Linked DNA regions of Homo sapiens. The protein of the gene in region 2 interacts with the protein of the main gene of each other region in a pairwise test. Each region holds a gene or a part of one and is shown on either strand. Other genes may lie near its edges.

What was found.
Region 1: the proteins of KCTD9 (region 2) and MIIP interact in binary tests that used the Homo sapiens proteins (3 or more experiments, as listed by UniProt).
Region 3: the proteins of KCTD9 (region 2) and IGFN1 interact in binary tests that used the Homo sapiens proteins (3 or more experiments, as listed by UniProt).

The regions. Positions count from the first base shown.
Region 1 is NC_000001.11:12,017,923-12,021,672, reverse strand, and holds the start of MIIP (migration and invasion-inhibitory protein), read right to left. Parts: upstream 2,176-3,750; 5' UTR 2,121-2,175; exon of another isoform or gene 1,699-2,120; intron 29-1,698; 5' UTR 1-28.
Region 2 is NC_000008.11:25,430,929-25,434,578, forward strand, and holds part of KCTD9 (BTB/POZ domain-containing protein KCTD9), read right to left. Parts: intron 2,508-3,650; coding exon 2,402-2,507; intron 1,726-2,401; coding exon of another isoform or gene 1,710-1,725; coding exon 1,576-1,709; intron 1-1,575. UniProt on the Homo sapiens protein: Substrate-specific adapter of a BCR (BTB-CUL3-RBX1) E3 ubiquitin-protein ligase complex, which mediates the ubiquitination of target proteins, leading to their degradation by the proteasome.
Region 3 is NC_000001.11:201,197,291-201,200,940, forward strand, and holds part of IGFN1 (immunoglobulin-like and fibronectin type III domain-containing protein 1), read left to right. Parts: coding exon 1-27; intron 28-2,043; coding exon 2,044-2,088; intron 2,089-2,318; coding exon 2,319-2,364; intron 2,365-2,946; coding exon 2,947-3,121; intron 3,122-3,650.

The DNA.
Region 1 (3,750 bases), on a different chromosome or scaffold from region 2:
GGCTGGGTTCCAGGCCCAGCTCTTCTACCTGAAGTCAAGACAGCAGGACACGGGGCTCAGTAGGGTGCCCTGTGGTGCCAGAGACCCCCATTCGACACTCTTTAACTGTACTGCCTCAGGCAAGTTATTTAACTTCTCTGTGCCTCAGTTTCCTCATCTGCTGGACGACAACAGTATCTACCTCATACGATTGTTGTTAGAATTAAAGAAAGCATGTTAAGCCTGGACAACATTTGTAGAAACATTTTTTTTTGTTTTGTTTTTTTGTTTTTTTTTTTTGAGATGGAGTCTTGCTCTGTCGCCCAGGCTGGAGTGCAGTGGCGCAATCTCGGCTCACTGCAAGCTCCGCCTCCCGGGTTCACGCCATTCTCCTGCCTCAGCCTCCTGAGTAGCTGGGACTACAGGCGCCTGCCACCACGCCCAGCTAATTTTTTGTATTTTTAGTAGAGACGGGGTTTCACCGTGTTAGCCAGGATGGTCTCGATCTCATGACCTTGTGATCCGCCTGCCTCGGTCTCCCAAAGTGCTGGGATTACAGGCATGAGCTACAGTGCCTGGCCAAAAAAAAATTTAATTAGCTGGCCATGGTGGCACTTGTCTGTGGCCCCAGCTACTCAGGAGGATAGCTTTAGCCCAGGAGACCCAGGCTGCAGTGAGCCATGGTTGCATCACTGTAAAAAAAACAAAAAACAGGCCAAGTGGCTCACGTCTGTAATCCCAGCACTTTGGGAGGCTGAGGCAGGAGGATCACCTGAGGTCAGGAGTTTGAGATGAGCCTAGCCAACGTGGCGAGAGACCTCGTCGCTACTAAAAATGCAAAAATTAGCCGGGCGTGGTGGCACGCGCCTGTAATCCCAGCTACTCGGGAGGCTGAGGCAGGAGAATCACCTGAACCCGGGAGGCAGAGGTTGCGGTGAGCCGAGATCGCACCATTGCGCTCCAGCCTGGGCGACAGGGTGAGACTCCGTCTCAAAAACAGCAACAACAACAAACAATTAGCCGGGTGTGGTGGTGGGCGCCAGTAATCCCAGCTACTCAGGAGGCTGCTGAGGCAGGAGAATCGCTTGAACCTGGGAGGCGGAGGTTGTAGTGAGTGGAGATCACACTACTGCACTCCAGCCTGGGTGACAGAGCAAGACTGTCACACACACACACAAAATACAAAAAACAAAGCACTCAGTACAGTGCTTACTTAATACAGTGCTTACAGTGGTATACAGTAAGCATTCAATAAACGTCTATTATTACCAAAATGGCTGGGGCAAGGGCATGCTTCCTTTTTTTCTTGGCTCACTGCAACCTCCGCCTCCTGGGCAGTGGTTTGGACAAGCTTGCTTTATAACTGGTGAGTCCAACACAAATCAGGCTTCAAAAGGGATTCTTCCTCCTTTCCTGCCCTCCCTTCCTCCTTCACTTTCTTTTTACATATGAAGAAACCAAAGCTCAGGGAAGTTAAGCAACTTGCCCCAAGTCACACAGCTAGCAAGAGGCTAGATCTGAACCAAAATTTGACTCCAGGGTCCATGAGTTCAGGGTTCTTGGAAAGCCTTTCCCTGGAAGTGTGGGGGAGCCTGGGAAAACTCCGCCTCCTCCTCCCAGCCCTTGCCCCCCACCTCCAAGGATCCTCAGGATCGGGTGCAAGGTCTGGAGCACAGAGTAGCCGACTACCCCGGAACCTCCCCCACACACGTATATTACCCCGCAGGGCCGGGGGGCACGGAGATGCAGTCCAGAGGGGCCAACTGTTTGATCCGCAGGACAAAGATCCCGGCCCCCACCCCTAACTGGCCAAGTGGCTCTGGGCCACACCCCTATAGTCAGAGGGTCGCCGTTTTCGCACGGGGTCAAAGGGCACAGCAGGCCTTGCCCTCCCCTGGCCCCGGCCGCGCTTTGGAAAGGGAAAAGCTGAGCGGAGACACCGGGAAAGCGACGCTCCAGAAACACCGGGGCCGCAGAAGTAACAGAGGGCGAGCGGGCGGACGCCGAGGCGGGACCCCCGCAGAGGCAGATGCAGCCTACCCTTCTTTTCCACTGCGGCCCCCGAGCCCCTCGCGGGAATGCACGTGGGGCCTCCTGCCGAGCCCTTCCGCCCCACCCCAGTCCTGCCGCCCAGCACTCACCCGGCAGAATCCCCTAGCATGCGCCGCCGTAGCAGCCGCAGCCGCCTGAGCCGTTCCAGGGGCCTCGGCCGGCCGTCTTGATTGGTCAGGTGAGGGGCAGGGCCGGGACGTCTGGTGAGCGTTACTCGGCGATCCGAAGTGTCAGTTTCAGCGTGGGGGCGGGACTAAGAGCGGAGCTACACAACCGATTGGTCAATTTTCGAGGCCGGTGCGGAGGTCGATTCCTGGAATGGGGCGGGCCCCGGAAGGGCGAGCTCCGATTGGTCAGCTGCGGGACTGGATACGCTGAGTTCAGCAGCGGCAGTTTCAGTCAGGCTGGGCGGCCTAGGCTCGGCGCAGGCGGCAGTCCGGAGCGGCGGGGTAGGTGGGGCAGGCGGCTGGCTACTCATTGTACTCATCGTTTCATACTTTTCTTTTTTTTTTTTTTTTTGGAGACGGAGTCTCACTCTGTTGCCCAGGCTGGAGTGCAGTGGCGCGATCTCGGCTCACCACAATCTCTGCCTCCCGAGTTCAAGCGATTGATTCTCCTGCCTCAGCCTCCCGAGTAGCTGGGACTACAGGCGAGCGCCACCATGCCCGGCTTTTTTTTTTTTTTTTTTTTTTTTTTTTTTTTTTTTTGTATTTTTAGTAGAGACAGGGTTTCACTATGTTGGCCAGGCTGGTCTCGAACTCCTGACCTCGTGATCCGCCCGCCCCGGCCTCCCAAAATGCTGGGATTACAGGCATGAGCCACTGCGCCCGGCCTGCTTTATACTTTCATTCAGGTTTTTAGCGAGTGCCCGCTTTGCGCCAGAAGATAAGGACTACACAGTAAACAAGAAAGTGTAGTATTGGGGCCGGCCGCGGTTGCTCACGCCAGTAAACCTAAAAATACAAAAATTAGCCGGGCGAGGTGGCCGGCGCCTGTAATCCCAGCTACTAGGGAGGCTGAGGCAGGAGAATCGCTTGAACCCAGCTACTAGGGAGGCAGAGATTGCAGTGAACCGAGATCGCGCCACTGCACTCCAGCCTGGATGACAGAGCAAGACGCAAGACTCCATCTCAAAAAAGAAAAAAAAAAAAAAGATACCCAGCCTGGGCAACATGGCAAAACCCCGTCTCTACAAAAAATGAGCCAGGCACGTACCTGTAGTCCAGCTACTCGGGAGGCTGAGATGGGAGGATCACCTGAGTCCAAGAGGCTGAGGCTGTGGTGAGCTTTGATTGCACCACTGCACTCCACCCTGACTGAGAGACCCTGTCTCAATAAATAAATTAATTTAAAAAAGAAAGAAAGTGTGGTATTGGCGTCCAGGTAGACAAATGGATCAATGCAACAGAATAGAGTTCCGATATGTGAGCAATTAATTTTTGACAAAAATGAAAGTGCAATTCAGTGGAGAAAGGATAATGCCTTCGGCCCGGGGCGGTGGCTCACGCCTGTAATCCCAGCGCTTTGGGATGCCGAGGTGGGCAGATGGCTTGAGGTAAGGAGTTACAGCCCAGCGACACCCAGCACCCCCCCCAAAAAAATTTATTTTATCAATAATGTGTGTGGAAACTTGGGAAAACAAGAAGAGATGGTGTCTTCAACAAATGTTGTAGGTATAATTGGATATCCACACACTCATCCTAAAAAAAAAAAAAAGAA
Region 2 (3,650 bases):
GAGCTATTCTCCTGCCTCAGCTTCCAGAGTAGCTGGGGTTACAGGCACTCACCACCACGCCTGGCTAATTTTTTCTATTTTTAGTAGAGACGGGGTTTCACCATGTTGGCCAGGCTGGTCTCAAACTCCTAACCTCAAGTGATTCGCCCACCTTGGCCTCCCAAAATGCTGGGGTTACAGGCATGAGCCACTGCGCCTGGCCCCAAAGTAATAAATATTATCAAAACAATTTTACTATGATCCAAGAACAACAACAACAAAAGGAATGAGATGGGGGGAAGACTTTTTTTTTAATCTGAAAAGATTTTACTTAATCAAATTGTGTAATAGATTTTTCCATTCCCTAGCCCTAGTATTTTTATAGCAAGGAACTGCCCTTCTTTTTAAAGCCCCAAAGGTACGTATATAATACAGTGAGTTTGACAGATGTACAGAACAGTGTAACCACCGCAATTTGAAGCTATTTCTTAATTTGTCTTGAGATCACGGAGCAATAAGATAGAGATTCCACTTAAGTCCCTGGATATGATAGGGGACAATGGTTAGAGAGAAGGGTGACTAAACGTAACCTGTTAGGAGAACAAATGTCAGCAGCTCTCCCCTCAATAGTCAACCTGATCAGTCTTTGCAATCAGAGAGAGGGAGGCTTTTGCTGCTAGGCCACACTGAGTACACAGTACTAAAACCAAGGAAAAAAATATAATCTTAGGTGAAAGTAATGTAACAAACAATAAATAATTGTGCTCGTGATAGGATTATACTTAGGCCAATTCTTTTTGCCTTGAAGTTGAAAGGGGCCTGCTACTCTGCTACCGAGAGCTATCAAGATATCTAGGCAAAAATATTATGAAAAAACATTAACAGCAAGCTAAATTTTGACATACCGTTCTCTGCTATCCAATTTATACCAGATTTCATAGCTACCAGCCACATGTGGCTACTTAAATTTAAATGAATTAAAATTAAATAAAATTTAAAAATCAATTTCTCATTTGCACTAGCCAAATCTCAAGCGCTCAATAGCTATATATGGGTGGTAGCTACTATACTGAACAGCACAGATATAGAACATGTCCCTCCTGCACAAAGTGCTATTGGATAGTGCTGATATAGACCTATCAACAGCTATCAAGTCTGCTAGCTAAACTGGCAAATTAAGAAGACATACAAATATAATTCTTTGAAAAAGATGACCAGGCAAAATTATAATCTCAAGCTGAAAACCAAAAAACATATGGTTCCAATTTCAAATAGACTTTTCCTGAACCTGATTTCAAACCTGGATATCATTTAAATTTCTCAAGTAGTTTAAGAAGTAATCTAGCCCATTTAATTCTATTCGGAATTAAATTTTATGGAAAATGCAATACATTAGATAACACATCTATCAAACTTATTTACTTGAGAAAAACTCAAGGAAAAGGAGAGAAATGAAATCAACTTAGACTGAATGTCAGATGAGTCTTCCAATCCAGTTTTACCAGCCAACTACTTTGTTTTGATTTCAATAAATTTTGCATGAGATGCTTAGTAAGTCTAGAGTAATAAAAATTCTTAAAGTGTTGGTGAACTCACCTCTAAATCAGTTCCTGCCAGAGTTGCTCCTCTGAGGTTACAGTTCTTCAACTTTGCATTTTTTAAGGTAGCCACTCTCAGGTTAATTCCTGTCATCTGACTTCCTTCCATATCCACACCTTTCAGATTAGCACCTACAGTGAACACATTCTGGGAGTAGTTTAACTTAAAAATATAGTTATCTACCTTCAACAGAACTGCAAGATGACTTAATGGAGGCCTCTTTTAACTTTTGGAAATTAATCTAAAATCTTGTCTCTCAACGAACTTATATATATAAACAGTTTACTGATGAAAGAATGCTTTCACAATACTTTTGAGGGAAGAAATTTAGTTCTGTCTTATGATAGTTAGCACTTTCATAATATGCCTCTACAGGTTTATGATAAGGGAGTGAAGTAGTCTCCTAAATATACAAGTAAACAAAGTGATCAGTCACAGATAGTAACAAATTAAGAAACAATACATTAAATCTAAAAATGATTTTTAAAAACTCCCTGGCTTTATGCAAATGAAATTTTTCCTTTTGGTCAGTGTAAGAATATTTTATTCCATTTGAAAGTTTAAGATGTTGATATTTAATTTTCCAACTAAAACCTTATTAAATATTTGAGGTTTTATTTTTTCTGAGTCCTCAATTTTGATTAGCATTTGACTGAAACCAAATGGAGGTTTCTTACCACTTTGGAAGTTCTCCAAATATGATGACAGAAGAAACCTATCCCCTACAGCTATCCTGTTTCACCCTTAACAATTATTTTCCAGGGCTTTTTTCCTTTACAGTCTGCTTCCTTCGTAGAATAGGTATTTACAGAAAGGATCTCACCTTCTAAATTGGCTTTAAGACCAGAAGGATCCTCAAAATTACACAGTTTCAGGGATGCTCCTTCTGCATTAGAACAGAGCATCTTGACTCCCTGGAGATTCGCACACTGCAAAGAAAAGAGAAAAGTCCTGGTTGTAAGGTTCATAATTTTGTTCAAATTAGCTCAAACAGTAAAAGAAAAAAAATAGAAAAGAGGGAAAGGCTCAACTCAAAACACTCATACTCAATTTTATTTTCTGTTTACAATAAAGGCTTTTCTAATTAAATACAGTAAGAACTGGGAACATTTGAAAGAAAAATTTTTTTAAAGAACTGTTTTTTAAAAAATAAATGCAAATTAACAATAGCATGCTCATTTTACATGAAACATAACGGTTTAGATAAAGAAGTTGGGTGAGTCAGAACTCTGACACCTCTATCTCTATTTTTATAAACATACCTATGCATGACAATGAAACAGTCAAAATGTATGGGTAAGGAAGGCATAGACTTGTTAGGGGTATGGATTTTCTTATTACTGTAGGAATCTTGATGTTCTAAGTGAAATTCTTGATATTCTAAGATGCTACTACTGCCCTCAAGTCAGAGGTCAGAATACAAAAGCCAGCATTTAAAGGCATTATTTAGCTAGAAAACACTAACAAGATGCTGGCTGGGTCTTTCTGCACCAACCATGGCTAAACATTATTAACCCTGAGCAGGCACATCACAATGCATAATGCAGGGCAGAGAGTAAAATGGTAGAAAATATATGTTTTAAGACTTTATTTTTTTGTTTTGTTTTGTTTGAGACAAAGTCTCACTCCGTCACCCAGGATGGAGTGCAGTGGTGCTGTCTCAGCTCACTGCAATCTCTGCCTCCCAAGTTCAAGTGATTCTCGTGCCTCAGCCTCCTGAGTAGCTTGAATTACAGGCATGCACCACCACGCCTGGCTAATTTTTGTATTTTTAGTAGAGACGGGGTTTCGCCATGTTGGCTAAGATGGTCTTGACCTCAAGTGATCTGCCTGCCTCTGCTCCCCAAAGTGCTGGGTTTACAGGCATGATCCACCACACGCAGCCAAGAGTTTTAAATTATGTTCATTTATCTCAAAGCGTTTTTGACAAACATCTTTTTTTTTTTGTCCTTAACACAAACAAAGATGCCTCTCGACATTTCACTATTTAAAGATTAGGTCCTTCAAACGTTTTTTTGATGTTAGTCTTTTTCCTGTTTTGCTACTAACCTGACCCTTCATGATAAGACAGA
Region 3 (3,650 bases), on a different chromosome or scaffold from region 2:
GCTCAGTGAGACTCACTGTCATCGAAGGTGGGCTTTTCCCTGAGTTTGTCTCATCAGTGCACAGGGCAGAGACCCACAGAGGAATCAGATGCCCCGTGGCTAGTGAGGGAGGGGAGGGGAGGGAAGGGAGGCCCATCCAGGCTGCTGCCGCTGCTGCAGCCCCACCTTGTGCTGGGCCCCGGGCTTCATCCACATGCACACTGAGTCTGCATGTGTTTAAAAAGGCACACCTTGGCAGATACTCTGAAGGATATTCTCTTGGCCCAGTAAATGAGCAGGACCTGAAAGCTGGCTTCTAGTCCTAGAGCTTCTGCTAACTCATTCAATGGGCTTCGTTTTCCTCTCTGGGTCTCAGTTTCTCCACCATGCAAAGGATATTTTGGACAGGCCTATGCCAGAGTTGACAAACAGGTCACACAAAGGCCAAATTCTCTCTCAGACATGTTTTTTTTGGTGTGCGTGGTGTTTGAAATTTTAAAAATTGTCAACCTGTAGTAATTAAAAGGTAGATATCTCTTGAGGAAGCAGGTCTAGTCTCGCCATTGGTTATGCTTACAATTGATCTGCCTGCAACTAACAGAAAATCCTACTAAGAGCAGCCTAAGAAATAACGATATTTCATTCCTTCACATAAGAAGTTTTGCGAGTGGCGTCCAGGGCTCATACCACAGCTCAGGGCTGCCATCGGAGAGCTGATTCCTTCGTTCCCACTGCTCTGCCATCCTTAGCAGATTGGCTTATCACCTCATGGCCATAAGAGGGCTGTGGCAGATTCAAACATAATCCATGTTCAAGGTAGGAAGGTGGAAGAGGTGGCCCAGGTCCATCTGCCTCTCTTATTTTTATTTTTATATTTTTGAGATGGACTGGAGTCTTGCTCCATCGCGTAGGCTGGAGTACAGTGGCACAATCTCACCTCACTGCAACATCTGCCTCCCGGGTTCAAGCAATTCTCCTGCCTCAGCCTCCTGAGTAGCTGGGATTACACGCGTTTACCACCATGCCTGGCTAATTTTTGTATTTTTAGTTGAGACAGGGTTTCACCACGTTGGCCAGGCTGGTCTCGAACTCCTGACCTCAGGTGATCCACCTGCCTCGGCCTCCCAAAGTGCTGGGATTACAGGCATGAGCCACTGTGCTTGGCCTTTTATTTTCTATTTTTTGAGACCTGTTGCCCAGGCTGGAGTGCAGTGGTGTGATTATGGCTCACTGCAGCCTTGACCTCCCAGGCCCAAGTGATCCTCCCACCTCAGCCTCCCAAGTAGCTGGGACTACATGCATGTGTCATCACACCCAGCTAATTTTTTTATTTTTTTTGTAGAGGCGGGGTCTCCCTGTGTTGCCCAGGCTGGTCTGGAACTCCTGGGCTCAAGCTATCCTCCCCCCTCGGCCTCCCAAAATGCTGGGATTACAGGCATGAACCATCACGACCAGTCCATCCACCCTTTTTATAGAGGAAGCAAAGGCTTTCTCAGAAATTCCTGGAGCTCATTGGTCAGGACAGTGTCACATGAGCACTGCTAGTTGCAAGGGAAGCTGGGGAAGGTGAGTGTTTAGCTTTTTCAGCCTCTCTAGTGGAAGCAGATGATGAAGAATACAAATGGCTGCAGGATTAGCCAAACAGCAATGTCTGACCTATTTGGCAATATTGGGCCTATACCCTGAAATGGCAGCTCCCAGGTGGAGTGAAAGAGCAGCTGCCCCTTTAGATACTCTTGAGTTTGTTGTGGTTGCCAGTGTCTGCTTCACGCATTTATGCCACCTCCCTGGCCCCTGCGGACACATGACTGGGCCTCCCCTGCATGAGATGATGCTTAGGTTGGTCCCCTTGGTCATGGTAAGGCTCTAGGGTAAAAAGGCTTATGATGGACAGACCCTCCACCCTGCTCCATCCCTCTTGCTGGGATCGTCCACGCCTTAGAGGACAGTGGGGAGAGCAGGGCTCTGGGACTCCATCAGTTTCTCAGGAAGACCATCAACATGTCTTGCTTCTCTCCCTGCTTGTCCACATCGACTCCTTCCTCTCCTCCCTGGATGTTGCAGTTGGCTTTCGGAAGAATCGGAAGAGGCACAGGGAACCGCAGGAAGGTAGGCAGATTTGTCAGAAACCTCCTTGGGGGCCTGTGGGGGATAGGCTACTCCTTTCCTGGTGTTCCCTGCCTGGTTGAGCTACCATGAACACCTTGTGGATCACCACCAGTCTTCAAGAGAGCCCCTTCCAAAGGCTCAGTTGTCAGCATGGACAACACAGAAAAGCTCTGCATCAACCCTCAGTCATCCCACCTGGGACTGAGGCCTCATTCCTGCTCCTTTTTCAGACCTCAGGAAGGAGCTGATGGACTTCCGGAAGTTGCTGAAAAAGAGGTGGGTTTGGGCCTGTCCATGAGGGATTTTGGAGGCTCCCATAGTATTCACCCCCTGCTATTTCCATAAGTAAGCTGGGCTTGAGCCCCACCTCTACCCAACACAGCAGGGAGCTAGACTGCCAGTAGCAGATGGGAGGATGGGAAGGGGACTGAACTGGATGGGAATGGGACAGAGCTCCAGCTCTGCCATTTCAAAGCTCTATATCCTTGAGTTAATCATCTCTCCTCTGATTTCCTCATTTGCAAAATGTGGTGGTCCACCAGAACAATGATGTACTTTTTTTTTTTAAGCAACAGAACAATGCAACACCCACTTTCCCCAGACATCCTACTTAGAAATCTACAATACAAGTTGTCAGGAGCATTTCTCCTGAAAGTTGTGGGGTGAGGCTGAGGCTCGCCCCACCCATCTCTGAATCCTTCTGGCCTCAACAGTGGTCAGTCCCAGAGATTCCAGGCTCTGCGTTTCCTCGAGTGCAGATAGAGCAGCTTCCCAGAACTACTTGGGACACCAGAGCCAGGTGGCCAACAGAGGAGCAGGGATTCCTCTGGCCTCTGACCTGCTAGCCTTGCTCCCCAGGGCCCCACCAGCCCCCAAGAAAAAGATGGACCTTGAGCAGATATGGCAGCTGCTGATGACAGCAGACAGGAAGGACTACGAGAAGATCTGCTTGAAGTATGGCATCGTCGACTACCGTGGCATGTTGCGCAGGCTGCAGGAGATGAAGAAGGAACAGGAGGACAAGATGGCACAGGTGCCTCACCCCATTCCCACCCCTCACTCCATGCCCACCCCACACACCTGGACCATAGGTGCCTCACACCTGGAGGTGGGCTTGGAGGCAGAACTTAGGAAACCAAGTATGATCAAGGGGCCTGTCTCCATCTAGTCCCCAGTGGGGTATCTGGCTAAGGCCCTGGGATCCCAGGTTGGTGTCCTGCCTTTGCAACCTGGTTCTGATACTTACTAAACTCTGGAGCTTTGGAAGGGTTAGGGCCTCTGTATCTTGGTGTCTTCATCTGTAAAATGGGAATTATAGTCATGCCTACCTTGTAGGGTTATTGGGAGGATAAATGAGAGAATGTAATTAAAGTACTTAGCTTAGTGCCTTGATTTTTGCTATCATTATCATTGTCACCAGATTGCGGGGGGGAGGTACCTGGTTTATTTCTTTCTTTTTTTTTTTTTTTTTAAGATGGAGTCTTGCTCTTTCGCCCAGGCTGGAGTGCTGTGGCCGGATCTTGGCTCACTGCAAGCTCCGCCTCCCAGGTTCACGCCATTCT